Linked DNA regions of Homo sapiens. The protein of the gene in region 2 interacts with the protein of the main gene of each other region in a pairwise test. Each region holds a gene or a part of one and is shown on either strand. Other genes may lie near its edges. The genes, in order: LNPEP and TAS2R19.

What was found.
Region 1: the proteins of TAS2R19 (region 2) and LNPEP interact in binary tests that used the Homo sapiens proteins (3 or more experiments, as listed by UniProt).

The regions. Positions count from the first base shown.
Region 1 is NC_000005.10:96,938,971-96,946,134, forward strand, and holds part of LNPEP (leucyl-cystinyl aminopeptidase), read left to right. Parts: intron 1-7,164. UniProt on the Homo sapiens protein: Release of an N-terminal amino acid, cleaves before cysteine, leucine as well as other amino acids. Degrades peptide hormones such as oxytocin, vasopressin and angiotensin III, and plays a role in maintaining homeostasis during pregnancy.
Region 2 is NC_000012.12:11,021,052-11,027,099, forward strand, and holds TAS2R19 (taste receptor type 2 member 19), read right to left. Parts: upstream 1,570-6,048; 5' UTR 1,521-1,569; coding exon 621-1,520; 3' UTR 568-620; downstream 1-567. UniProt on the Homo sapiens protein: Receptor that may play a role in the perception of bitterness and is gustducin-linked. May play a role in sensing the chemical composition of the gastrointestinal content.

The DNA.
Region 1 (7,164 bases), on a different chromosome or scaffold from region 2:
GATTTGTATATTACAAAAAAAAAAAAAAATTGAAGGCAACTATCTGCTTTTTTGGTTAGAGATATTAGATTAAATAATTCTTTGATGTTTATCCAGATTTTTGTCTTCATTTGCATGCAGGGTTGGTATATTTTGTAAAAACTTAAATTCATCTTAAGAAATGCAAATGCTAAGGTTCACCCTCAGAATCTGATTAAGGAGGTCTGATTATATATGAAATACATACTAGAAAGTATGTATACTTTCTTTTTTTTTTTTTTTGAGACACAGTCTCACTCTGTTGCCCAGGCTGGAGTGCAGTGGCACAATCTCAGCTCACTGCAACCTCTGCCTCCCGGGTTCAAGTGATCCTCCTGCCTCAGCCTCCCGAGTAGCTGGGATTACAGGCGCCCGCCACCATGCCCAAATAATTTTTGTATTTCTAGTAGAAATGAGGTTTCACCATGTTGGCCAGGTGAACTCCTGACCTCAAGTGATCCGCTCACCTTAGCCTCCCAAAGTACTGGGATTACAGGCATGAGCCACCGCGCCCAGCTGAAAGTATATATACTTTCTAGTTTGTGATATATTCTAAAGTATATCTAAAGGTTGGTATTTTGGCATTTTGAGGTCCCAGAACTGAAAACATAAATAGTTTTTTTTTTCATATGAATGTAGGTCCTATGAATCACTTTTATTACCGCAGTGTGGTGCATAATCAAACAAGGAGGACTTAGTTGTCTTAAAAAATTATTTTTGCTTTCATGTTCAGATTGGTATCCAGTTGAAAGTATTTTTCAACTTCAAAAATGGGAAGTCTGGGCAACAAATGAGATATTTGTGGGTTGTAATACAGTATAAAATTGTGATTCCATCTTTTAATCTTACAAATAACAATTGTTCTATAGATATGTGAGTCTTTTTAAAAAAAAATTTTTAGCATCACTTCTCAAAAATGTGAGCATACCACATTTTGTTTTTATTTTTCTTTTGCTCTATGATAAATTTCCACATTGAAAGACAACTCTTAAGAAATAGGAGCTCATAGTTTCTCTGTGTGATGGAATATAAGTTAAATCCTGTTTTTATCTTTCTGTCTTAAGTTTTTAATTTTATTTGGGGGAAATAAGACTGTTAGGAATTAAGTGTTAGCATCACTAACAATCTAGGGTTAAAGCTATAGCTAGAAACAGCCCAGTTTTTAACTGGAAACTAGTGGTAGAAAAGTTCTTTGCTATTACTTGCCAGTTTCCAAAAACTGTCTTGATACATGCATAAAAACAGCATATTTTAGAAACTCTTATAACCGGTGATTATCATTTATCTGTAGGTTATCCTTGAGAACTCAGCCTGAAAGATAGATAACCAGAGAGATTGGTTATAAGGAAATTATATAGAAAATAAGTGGTAATTTTCTGCTCAGTAATTCAATCATACAGCTATCTTTTGAATGCCCATTTACAAGTAGATTTTCTGCTAGACACAGTTACATTAAAAAAAAAAAACCCACAACCTCGTCATCAGATAATGCTTACCTAAATAAGAGAAATGAATAGAAGAACCTAGTTTTGTTGTCATGCTAATATGAAATATGGAAACACAGAAGAAATAAAAAAGCAATAAAGTTTTGTCTAAGACAGTATTCTAATTATGAAATAAATGTACAGAAACTGTTCATAACTGTTTGCATGTCTACTAATTTAGTGTAATACTCCTATTAGGAAACAGCAGTATTAACCCTGTCTATGAAAACATTAGGAAATTGAGATTTGAAAGAGTTTAGCCAAGATTACCCCAGATGTTGGGATGGACCTAGATGAGGCCTGTGGTTCTTGGCAGTCGAGGTGAGGTCAGTGCAGCTATGTTTTGTCAATTAGTCACCTCATGACTTGAAAACTGTAGGGCAGCAGTCCCCAAACTTTTCGGGACCAGGGACCACAGTCGGGGGGATGTATGTATACTTTCTAGTTTGTGATATATTCTAAAGGGGAGAAGGTTTGGGGATGACTCAAGTGCATTATATTTATTGTGCACTTTATTTCTATTATTATTGCATTGTAATATACAATGAAATAATTATACAACTCACCATAATGTAGAATCAGTGGGAGCCCTGAGCTTGTTTTCCTGCAAGTAGACAGTCCCATCTAGGAGTGGTGGGAGACAGTGACAGATCAGGCATTAAATTCTCAAAAGGAGCACACAACCTAGATCCCTCACATGCGCAGTTCACAATAGGGTTCGTGCTCCTATGAGAATCTAATGCCACCACTGATCTGACAGGAGGTGGAGCTCAGGTGGTAATGCTAACGATGGGGACTGACTGTAGAGATGAAGCTTCACTTGTTTGCCTGCTGCTCACTCCTGCTGTGTGGCCTGATTCCTAACAGGCCAGAGACTGGTACTGGTCTGTGGCCTTGGGGTTGGGCAAACCTACTGTAGGGGGCTGGAGTTGAGCTGATACTACTAGGCCTTTCCATAGTATAATTGGAGCAACCAGAAAGACACAGTCTTTTATTTATTTATTTATTATTATTTTTTTAATTTGAATCCGTAGATAAATTTCAGCAACTTTTCTGAAAGTTTGCAAGAAGCCAGGATTGAGAATGAAGGGACATTTTGGAGCCCTTGTGGTGGTACAGTTCTTTTTATATCTAGATCTTGACCTAGATCTACATATGGCCGTTATAGAGAGTGTTGCTTATTGCCTTGGTGTTTCTGGACAGTAAATGGAACATCAAGAGTTCTCTGTGTCCATGGAAGGGTGGACAGGATTCCCTTGTAACCTTATCCATTGTTGTAATTCATTTGTGATTGTCCTAGCAGCACCTGAAGGACTTTGCATTTTACAAAGATGTTTAGAGAAAATTGGAAGAGGAGAATCAATGATGAAGATGAAAGAAATGTGGAGATTGGGGGTAAAGGAAGAAGCTGATAGGCAGAGATTTTAAAAATGGTCATGCCTTGATCCTTGCAAGTCTTTGGTTCAGAAATGAGCTTCAGTTGGAGAGCAGGACACTGTTGTATGAGGTTGAAGACAGAGTCTAGGTTGGAAGGGGACAGGTAGGTAGGTCTGGTTGGATTAATGGAATTGGGGGCTCAGGGGACAAATGAGTTAAGATTGGCATTTGGGAGCCTTGCCAAGAGATAGAAAACATTTGCCAGAAATTTAAGCATACTGTCTTTTTTATAGTCAGAAAATTCAGTCACTCGTAAGTTGGGACTGTTCACTTGTCTGAATGTTTTAGATTTAAAGAAAAAATATAGCTCTTTGATAAACAACGTGGTGTGGAGCTGTGGTAAGCCTGCTCTTGCTCCTGACTCACCGCCGCTCGCTCTCACCAAAAAACAGGTTGGTCAGGAGATACAGAAAAACGCCCATGAAGCCAGAGGTGGCAATTCACTGAATTAGAATCACTCTAGGCCCAGCGCGGTGGCTCACACCTATACTCCCAGCACTTTGGGAGGCTGAGGCAGGCGGATCACCTGAGGTCAGGAGTTTGAGGCCAGCCTGGCCAACATGGTGAAACCCTGTCTCTACTAAAAATACAAAAATTAGCTGAGTATGTTGGCACGTGCCTGAAATCCCAGCTACTCGGGAGGCTGAGGCACAAGAATCACTTGGACCCAGGAGGCGGAGGTTGCAGTGAGCCGAGATCGTGCCACTGCATTCCAGCCTGGTGACAGAGCGAGACTCCATCTCAAAAAAAAAAAAAAAAAAATACGAGAACACTTGGACACAGGGTGGGGAACACCACACACTGGGGCCTGTCATGGAGTCGGGGGAGGGGGGAGGGATAGCATTAGGAGATATACCTAGTGTAAATGACGACTTAATTGGTGCAGCACACCAACATAGCACATGTATACATATGTAACAAACCTGCACGTTGTGCACATGTACCCTAGAACTTAAAGTATAATAAAAAAATAAATAAATAAAAAGAATCACTCTAACGAGCTGCAAGGTAAAATCCTTGGAGAAGGTGTGTGCCGACTTGATCAATGGATCAAAGGAAAAGAATCTAAAGTGATAGGACCAGTTTGAATGCCTACCAAGACTTTGAGAAACATTACAAGAAAAACTTCTTATGAAGGTTCTGAGACATGGTATTGTTTCCAGATGAGAATCCATAAGTGACTCATTGACTTCCACAGTCTTTCTGAGATTGTTAAGCAGATTACTTCCATCATTATTGAGCCAGGAGTTGAGGTTGAAGTCACCATTGCAGATGCTTAAGTCAACTATTTTAATAAATGATTACCAGTTGTTTAAAAAAAAAAAAAAGAAAACTATAGAGAGCTATCTACCTTTTGGGACTACCATGGTAGCAGTCATTTGCTGTTCCTTTTTTTGGGAGGGACGGGAACAGGGTCTTGCTTGGCTGGAGTGCAGTGGCACGGCCACAGCACTGCAGCCTTGACTTCTCAGGCTCAAGCGATTCTCCTGCCTCAGCCTCCCGAGTAACTGGGACCACAGGTGCACACCACCATGCCTGGCTAATTTTTGTATTTTTTGTAGAGATGGAGTTTTGCCATGTTGGCCAGGCTGGTCTCGAACTCCTGGGCTCCAATGTTCTGCCTGTCTTGACCTCCCCAAGTGCTGGTACTATAGGTGTGAGCCAGTGCGGCCCTGTGGCCAGCCTACTATTCTTTATAGCCTGGCTTTGCTTCACTTTTCTACTGGTGCTTGTGATAGAACAATGAACCAATTAATTTTTTTAAAATTCCATCCTTAACATGTAAATGAGGAGGAAACCAGGTCATTTGCCAAATAAGGAAAATTCAAGCTTCCAAGGGAGTTTCAAAAAACAATGGAGGATCAAGTTCAATTGTAGGAGACTTTTTGAAATTCTTTTTCTTCTAATACATATTGCTTAATGAAGGTACTCCTGGGCATTCCACATATTTCAAAAATGTAGTCACTGAACCAGAACTTGAATCAGTTGTCTGAATTTCTCTGGATTGTGGGGCTCAGAGTCTTCTCCAGCCAATGATCTGGGGTGAAGGAAGTTAAAGAAGGCTTCTTCAACTGAGGGAACAGAAGAATGAGGAGTGCAGTGAGAAAAGGATGCCTCTATGGGTTGGGTGTGCTCCCTTCCTCTTGCAGCAAGTGATGAACAGTGCTATGTGGGAGCATTTCCCGGACAACTGACTCAGGTGTCATTCAGTGCCATAGAGAAAATTTCTGGTAAGGAAGGAGGCTTAAGCCATAGTATTTCTCACAGCTGAAACTGTTATTTTGTCAAATTTAAAACAGTTGTTAGTATATTCATCAATGAAACATCATTACATTGTCAATGAAACATTTCATTGTCAATGAAAAGAGTCAAACTGTAAAATCTTTAAAGAGGCTTATTCTGAGATAAATAATGTGTGACCAAGGCCCAAAGCACAGTCTCAAGAAGTCCTGAGAACATGTGCCCAACATGGTTGGGTTACAGCTTGATGTTATACATTTTAGGGAGACAGAAGTTATAGGCAGACAACAATCAATACATGTAAAGTGTACATTGGCTCAGTCTGGAAAGGGGATAACTCAAAGCGGGGACTTCTATTCCAGTTCATAGGTGGATTCAAAGATTTTCTTTTTTGTTTTTCTTATTTTTGCTTTTTTTTTTTTTTTTTTTTTTTTTTGAGACAGAGTCTCATTCTGTCACCCAGACTGGAGTGCAGTGGTGCAATCTCAGCTCACTGCAAACTCCGCCGCCCAGGTTCAAGCAATTCTTGTGCCTCAGCCTCCTGAGTAGCTGGGATTATAGGCATGTTGCCACCACACCCAGCTAATTTTTGTGTTTTTTCAGTAGAGATGAGATTTCGCCATATTGCCCAGGGTGGTCTTGAACTCCTGGCCTCAAGTCATCACCCACCTCAGCCTCCCAAAGTGCTGGGATTACAGGCATGAGCCACACATGTGGCCACATTCAAAGATTTTCTGATTGGCAGTTGGTCGAAATAATTAAGTTATTATCTAAAGACCTGGAATCCATAGAAAGGAGTGTCTGGGTTAAGATAAGGTAAGGGGTCATGGAGACCAGGGTTCTTAATATGTAGACGAAGCCTCCAGGTAGCAGGCTTTCAGAGAATAGATGGTTATTATCTCTTATCAGAACGTAAAATGTGCCAGACTCTTAGTTAAATCTCTCCTGGATCAAAAAAAGACCTGGGGTGGTGCAGTGGCTCACACCTGTAATCCTAGCACTTTGGGAGGCCAAGGCAGGAAGATTGCTTGAGGCCAGCAGTTCAAGACCAGCCTGGGCAACATAGTGAGAGCCTGTCTCTACAAAAAAATTAAAAATTAAAAAAAAAAATTAGTCAGGTGTGATGGTATGCACCTGTGGTCCCAGCTGCTTGAGAGGCTGAGGTGAAAGGATCACTTGAGCCTGGGCAAAGTGGAAGTGAGCTGTGGTCATGCCACTGCACTGCAGCCTGGGCAAGAGAGTGAGACCCTATCTCAAAAAAAAAAAAAAAAAAAGAGATCAGAAAGGTCTTTTTCTATAGAATGTTCCACACAAGAGACAGCTTTGCAGGGCCATTTCAAAATAGGTCTAAGAAATATATTTTGGGGTAAAATACCTTTATTTCTTTCACAGCCTGCTATCTGTTGTGTGATGTTATACTAGAGTCAGTTTAGAATTTGGTATTTTATTGCTACAAAGAGTGTTTCGTCAGTCTTAAGATCTCTGTTTTAATATTAATGCTGGTCAGTTGTGCCAGAATTCCAAAGGGAGGAGAGTATAATGAGGTGCGTCTGACCCCCGCTTCCCATCATAGCCTGAGCTAGTTTTTCATGTTTACTTTGGAATGCCCTTGGCCGTTCAGTCAGAGGGGTCCATTCGGTCAGTTGAGGGGCCTAGAATTTTATTTTTGGTTTACAAAATCATTCCAAGATCCTCTTTAGAGGAAAAATTTATAGAGATTAGTGGGAATGATGAGGAGAACTCAATCTTGAGAGCTCAATCAAAAGGAGATGTTTAAATATCTTTTTAAGTTGGTATTGGTAAAGTGCTTTGAAGACAGAAAGAATGTAATACATGTCTGGTGTCTGCTTGTCCTATAATTGTCGGAAGGGCCTCAATGATGAAATAAGGGAGGCTGCCATGACACTTGAGTCTTGGTGAGAGGAGCTAGTGTGTCCACATTTATCAAGATCACCTGCAGGAGTTTGGGCTGGCCCCCTCTTAT
Region 2 (6,048 bases):
TTCTTTAGTACTGTTTTGGTATACATATACAAAATTTACTCTACATATGTTTTTCACTCCAATTTTATTGTGTGCATCATTAACTAACAACAATTCTATTTGCTTTCTACTAAGCATAAAATAAGAATTCATAATGAAATAAAACCTACCCCAAAGATCCATTCTTATCATTGATTTAAAATTGAATGTCTTTACCATCCAAAAAATTAGAGGTTCACCAATGATAGTTAAGCACATATATGTGGTACAAATTACAATGGAAAAGAGAAATGATTTCTTCATAAAAGCTGTACGTTCTTAATTATAAAGAGAGATAATAAATTCTTCAAATGAAATACTATACAATGAACTATAATAAAATATAAATACTATATATGTGAAATATACTCAGCTTCATAATTTATGGTCAACGTTGTTATTCACACACATGCACACATATACACCCATAAATATATATATGACTTTTCTAGGTATCTGTTTTGAAATTACTCACATACAAACACTATGGAAAAACTGATAGAAATATAAAATGTTCCAGACACCATCAGTTTGTTTTCTGCTAGAAGACCCACGATGCTCCCCTTGTGAATCTATGGAGTTGAGGGTTTCTCTTCTTTCACTCAGCGTGTCATCTGCCACAAAACTGAAAGAAAGGTCTGTTTTAGCTTCCTACTTCCCATAATCAGGATGAATGAGTGGAATGAAGGATACATGATTGCAACAGTTTGGCAAAGCAGGAGTACAAGTTTGCTCTGCTGTGTCCTAAGATTCCAAGTTGATGTGATTATACACAGAAAGTAAATGGCAAATAACATGAGGAAGGAGGTCACAGTTTGCAAAGCTTTTATATGGACCTTGGTGCTGGGATCTTGAGATCCTTTGCTATGGAGCCGCATCTTCTTGAGATGTTTACAAAGAGAACAGATTAACAGCAGAAAACATATTAGGCTCAGAGTAAAGGGTATGAGGTTTGCTAGAGTAGTTACAGTCAAGCTTGAAAGGTGTATTGCATTCCTCAATTTGATCTTCCAAGTCACATTTCCTTCATATTCTTTTGTCCACACTCTCTCATCCATGGTTATCACAGCAAGATTACAAATCAGAAATACCAAGGGCCCCAACAGTATCACCAGAACAACACTCTTAATTCTCTTCTTTAGGTGGAGAGAAATAAGGTTGGAGAAATTGGCAATCTTGAGCAAACAAAATATGCTGAGGCTAGCAGCAAGCCACATGCTGAAATGGTTCGTTACAGCCCAGGCATTAGAAGCAACAATTCTTACTTCTAAACCATATAAAGCAGAATTAAACACAGTTGCATACCAAAGGAATAACATGACCCAGAGTAAACCAATTCTGGAGACCACCAGAGCAGTGAGAATTTGCTCAGCTGAGGAGATCTTTCGTGTGTTAACCCAGTCAATGACATTTACTAGGGCTATGAAGCCATTGGCAACATTTCCAAGAACAAATGCAAACACTACCAGAATTGATGAAATGATGAGCAGAAAACACATCATGTTTGAACAGATAAAAAAATGCAGGCTTAGTAACACTTGTTCTGAGTCCTTTAACATCCAGATGTTAACTTCGATGAACACTTGATTACTAAATGTGCAATAACATTTTCTGCCTTTAAATTCAGTGACTAGTGTCAACAGGCAAGCACCAGCATATGCTAATAGATGAATTCAAAACTGTCTTTATAGAAATAGAAAAGGTCATTATTCTCAAAACAGCTCAAATTCACTCCTCTTCATATACATTCTCTCCTTGCTATATGCTGTACTTTTTTATACTGAGGTTGAAGTGGAAAATGAATTCTCATGTGTTAGTATGCAAAGAAAGGCATATTATTTTTCATTGTTTTGCAATTTTTTTCCTTGTTTAACCTCTCCATAATTTGTATACAGCATCTTCAGTTGTTCCATAGGGAAATTGTAAAACCCAATACATATATCATATAGTAAATGTCTAAATTGTTAAAGGAGCTTGGTCATAACTAGGATCATACCAATATGGACTTATTTTTATGCCAGATTTAAATACCAGATTCTAAACCTTTTATCAAAATCATCCAAGATTATCTTGGAAATCCCTGGGAGGCTGATACACTTTAAAATCTGGTTTCTGATAACCAATAAATTGATATGACATCATTGTTAATAAGCTCCTAAACACATAGACACACATGCACTCACACCCTTAGGGCATGGAAGGAATTATTTTCTTATAATTCCCCAAATGGAAAATGAGTTTCCAGGAACTCATCCAGGTGGTATTAGTCTTATTTTCCAACTCAGGGCTGTCAGACAATGAATAATATTTATCAAACATGTTTCTCAAGCTTAGGCCTTTGGTATATTTACACTCAAGTCTGTTTTGTTTAAACATTAATTATTTAATTAAAATGTTCAGCAATTTTGTAAATATTTCTAAGTACCCTACTCTTTGTCACATAATCCTGCAGTACCCTCCCACCTCAGGCAGGGTGACTACCTTGACCTTGGACTCTGAATTCACTCACGTAATTTGCTTCAGTCAACAGGAAATTAGTAGAATTTACAGAGATTTAAGATGGCTTCCATATTGAAGTTTCCTGCTCTTTTCCACTAACCATGAGGACATCATCTGGCTAGCACACTGTTCCCAGAAGAAGAAAGAGAAACTAATGGAGTCAGAATGCCACTGCCTTATCTACCCTAAATCAGCCAAACTAGCGGCAAGATGCAGTACGTGGCCCATCTCCAATCACCAGAGCCATCCACCAAACCTAGGTTAGAAAAATGTAATCCAAAGACATAATGATACACAATTATCTAACTCAGTTTTCTCTTGCAGAAAAACATAAGTGATGTAGGTATTCTGCTAAATCAGGAGTGTGGGAAATATGCCCACCATTGTTGTGTCAGGAATTCAGGATCGAAGGAAAAAATAGAGAATGTCCAAGTTTTGTCATATGAAGTGGGTAATTAAACCTAAAAGAAAAACCTATTCAGAAATCTGTGGTTGGCAGGTAACATCATGTCAAGTTTCCTAAAGTTGCAACTAAAATCAGAAAGTTTCTACTTAAAATCTCTTAGAGTTACACATGAATGTATACAAATAGTGGATTTTTCCCTTCAGTATATAATGAGCAGAGTAATAATAATTTTCATGGACCATTTCTCCTAATTAATAATTTTTATCATATAGCTAGACTGCACACTTAGAAATGAACCAAAACAAAAATGGAAAACATAGCAATGTGTCATAAACACTCATGTAACCATCATGTAGGGCAAGACATGGAACATTGCTAAGAGCCTAAGTTTACCTCAATGCCACTTTCTAATTCCCTACACCTTTCTTCATGTCTCCTGTGATAAGCAACATCCCTAATTTATGATGGTCTTTTTTTAATATTCTTTATACTTTACCAATAAGGTATTCGACCCTAAACTCAATAGCTTGGTTTGGCCTGATTTGATCTATGTATAGGTGCAATCCTATATGTTCTTATTCATGGCTTCCTGGAATCAACATTTTGTATCCAAAATTTAACCCCATCATTGCATGTACATGTGATCCATATCTTTTCACTTCTCTATATTTTTTTCATTTTTTGATTTTACTGTAATTATTTATCCATCCTTATTTGATATATATTTGGACAGCTTATTTTTTGAGCTTTTATGAATAATGCTACAATGAACATTCTTTCACATATCATTTGCTACAATTCCTCTGTGTATATATATCTGGGTGTAGAATTACAGGGTCCTTGATTATGATGTTCAAATTCTTCTCACAGACATAGAAAAGCCCAAAACACAGTTTGACTAAATTTATTCCTGTTACCTTTATCTCCAGCCTCTTTATTGCTATTTGCATATATCTTATCAATTATACATTCAATCCAAGAAGACACTATTGTTTTATATAGTCAACATTTATTTAGAATTACACACTTAGTTTTCATTGTCATTAATTTTTTTTTTTTTTTTTGAGACATAGTCTCCCTGTCACCCAGGCTGGAGTGCAGTGGCACGATCTCTGCTCACTGAAAGCTCCGCCTTCCGGGTTTAGCCATTCTCCTGCCTCAGCCTCCGGAGTAGCTGGGACTGCAGGTGCCCGCCACCACGCCAGGCTAATTTTTTTTTATTTTTAGTAGAGACGGGGTTTCACCGTGTTAGCCAGCATGGATTGTCATTAATTTGTAATGCTCCTTGCGTGTTCAACTTTGTATTTTCAGTAATTTTATTTTATCTGAAAAATATCATTTTCAATTTCTGTTTATGAAGGTCTACTACTCTTTGGAAACACATTGAAGACATGATTCCCATTAATCCATTGAATTCCTGCTTCCATGTTTTCTGTTAAAATCAGGTTGTATTTAGAATACAGTTCTTTTCAACATACTCTATCTTCTACCTCTAGCTACTTTTCAGATTTTCTATTGGTCTTTTGCGTCCTGTATTATTTTATGTTAATTTGGTTTTAGTTATCATGCCTGAAGTTTGAGATTACTAAAAATATATTCAGGGATACATTTTATACCTTTTGGAAAAATCCTTGCAACATTTCTCTTGCTCTATTTTCTCTCCTCTAATCTTACAGAACTCCAGAAGTATGTTAGGTGTTCTGTCTGTAGCATCAATGTGTTACCCTCTAGCTCTGTGTATTTCCATCTCTTCCCTTCTATGCTTCATTCTGTGTAGCTATCTTCCAATTCACTTATTCTCTCTTGTACTGTATCCAACTGGTTAACTCTGTCTATTGGATTCTCAATATTGATAATTCATTTTTTCAGTCTTATTGTTTTAGTGTTCAGAATAATCTTTTATTCTCCTTCCATAAATCATTTTCTATGGGGAAACTGAACAAACTACTCTTAACACCATGTTCTTTTTAAAAGTGTTTTTGACTTTTGGAGTTTTTAGTTTTTTGTTTTACTCGATACTGTTTTACTTGATGTTTAAGATACCGGTGAGAACTTATACTTGTTTTTTTTTCTTCTTCTGAGACACAGTCTCCCTCTGTTACCCAAGCTGGAGTACAGTGGCAGGATCATAGTCCACTGCAGCCTGGAACTCCTGCGCTCAAGCAATCCTCCTGCCTCAGCTTCCCAAGTATTTGGAACTATAGGCATGCACCAACACACCAGCTAATTTTTTAAATTTTTTGTACAGACGGAGTTTCCACATGTTGTGAAGGGAACTCCTGCTCTCAAGGGATCCTCCCACCTTCGCCTCCCAAAGTGCTAGGACTGCAGGCATGAGCCATCACATCCAGCCTGCAGGGGGAGTTTTTGAAGGTCAGATACTACCTAGAGCTTCGGCTCATGTCCATTCCAAGGTGGAGCTAATCAGTTTGTAGTTACTACCTCTTCCTGAAAGTATAATTGAAATAGATATGTATGGCAGCCGGCAGGACTCACATTCTTCGTGAACTGTAGAGTAAAGGACATTATTATAGCAGGACCAAAGGGAAGCCTCTGAAATTCTCCTCTACTGGCAACAAAATATATAAAATATAATAACCGCATTCCCTAAGGAATGGAACTGGTCAGTGCCGTGACAAAACACTTGAAAGTTACAGGGGATGGTAGTCCTTTCTATAAGCCGATTCACTAAACCTATCTGGCCTCTATCAAAACCAGACGGGTTATAGAATGAATGCAGACTACCAGAAACTTAAATCAACACTCACAAATGCTTTCCAGGATGTGCTGTCTTCACTAAGCAGAGCAGAGCTTCTGGTACTTTTTACTGGGCTTGTGATTTGCTGAATGGTTCTTAATCTACACCCATTATGAGGAAAAATCAAAACAATTTGCCTTGTATCATAATAATAACACTGTGTCACTGTTTTATATCACGGCTATGTCACTTCTGTTTAATTTACATTTTTTAAAACATCGTGATTATTTAATATATTAATAATATTACAGACCAGGCCCTGTGGCACATGACTGTAATCCCATCATTTTAGGAGGCCGACACGGGAAGATCATTTGAGCCCAGGATTTTGAGACCAGCCTGGGTAACACTGTGAAATCCTAGCCCT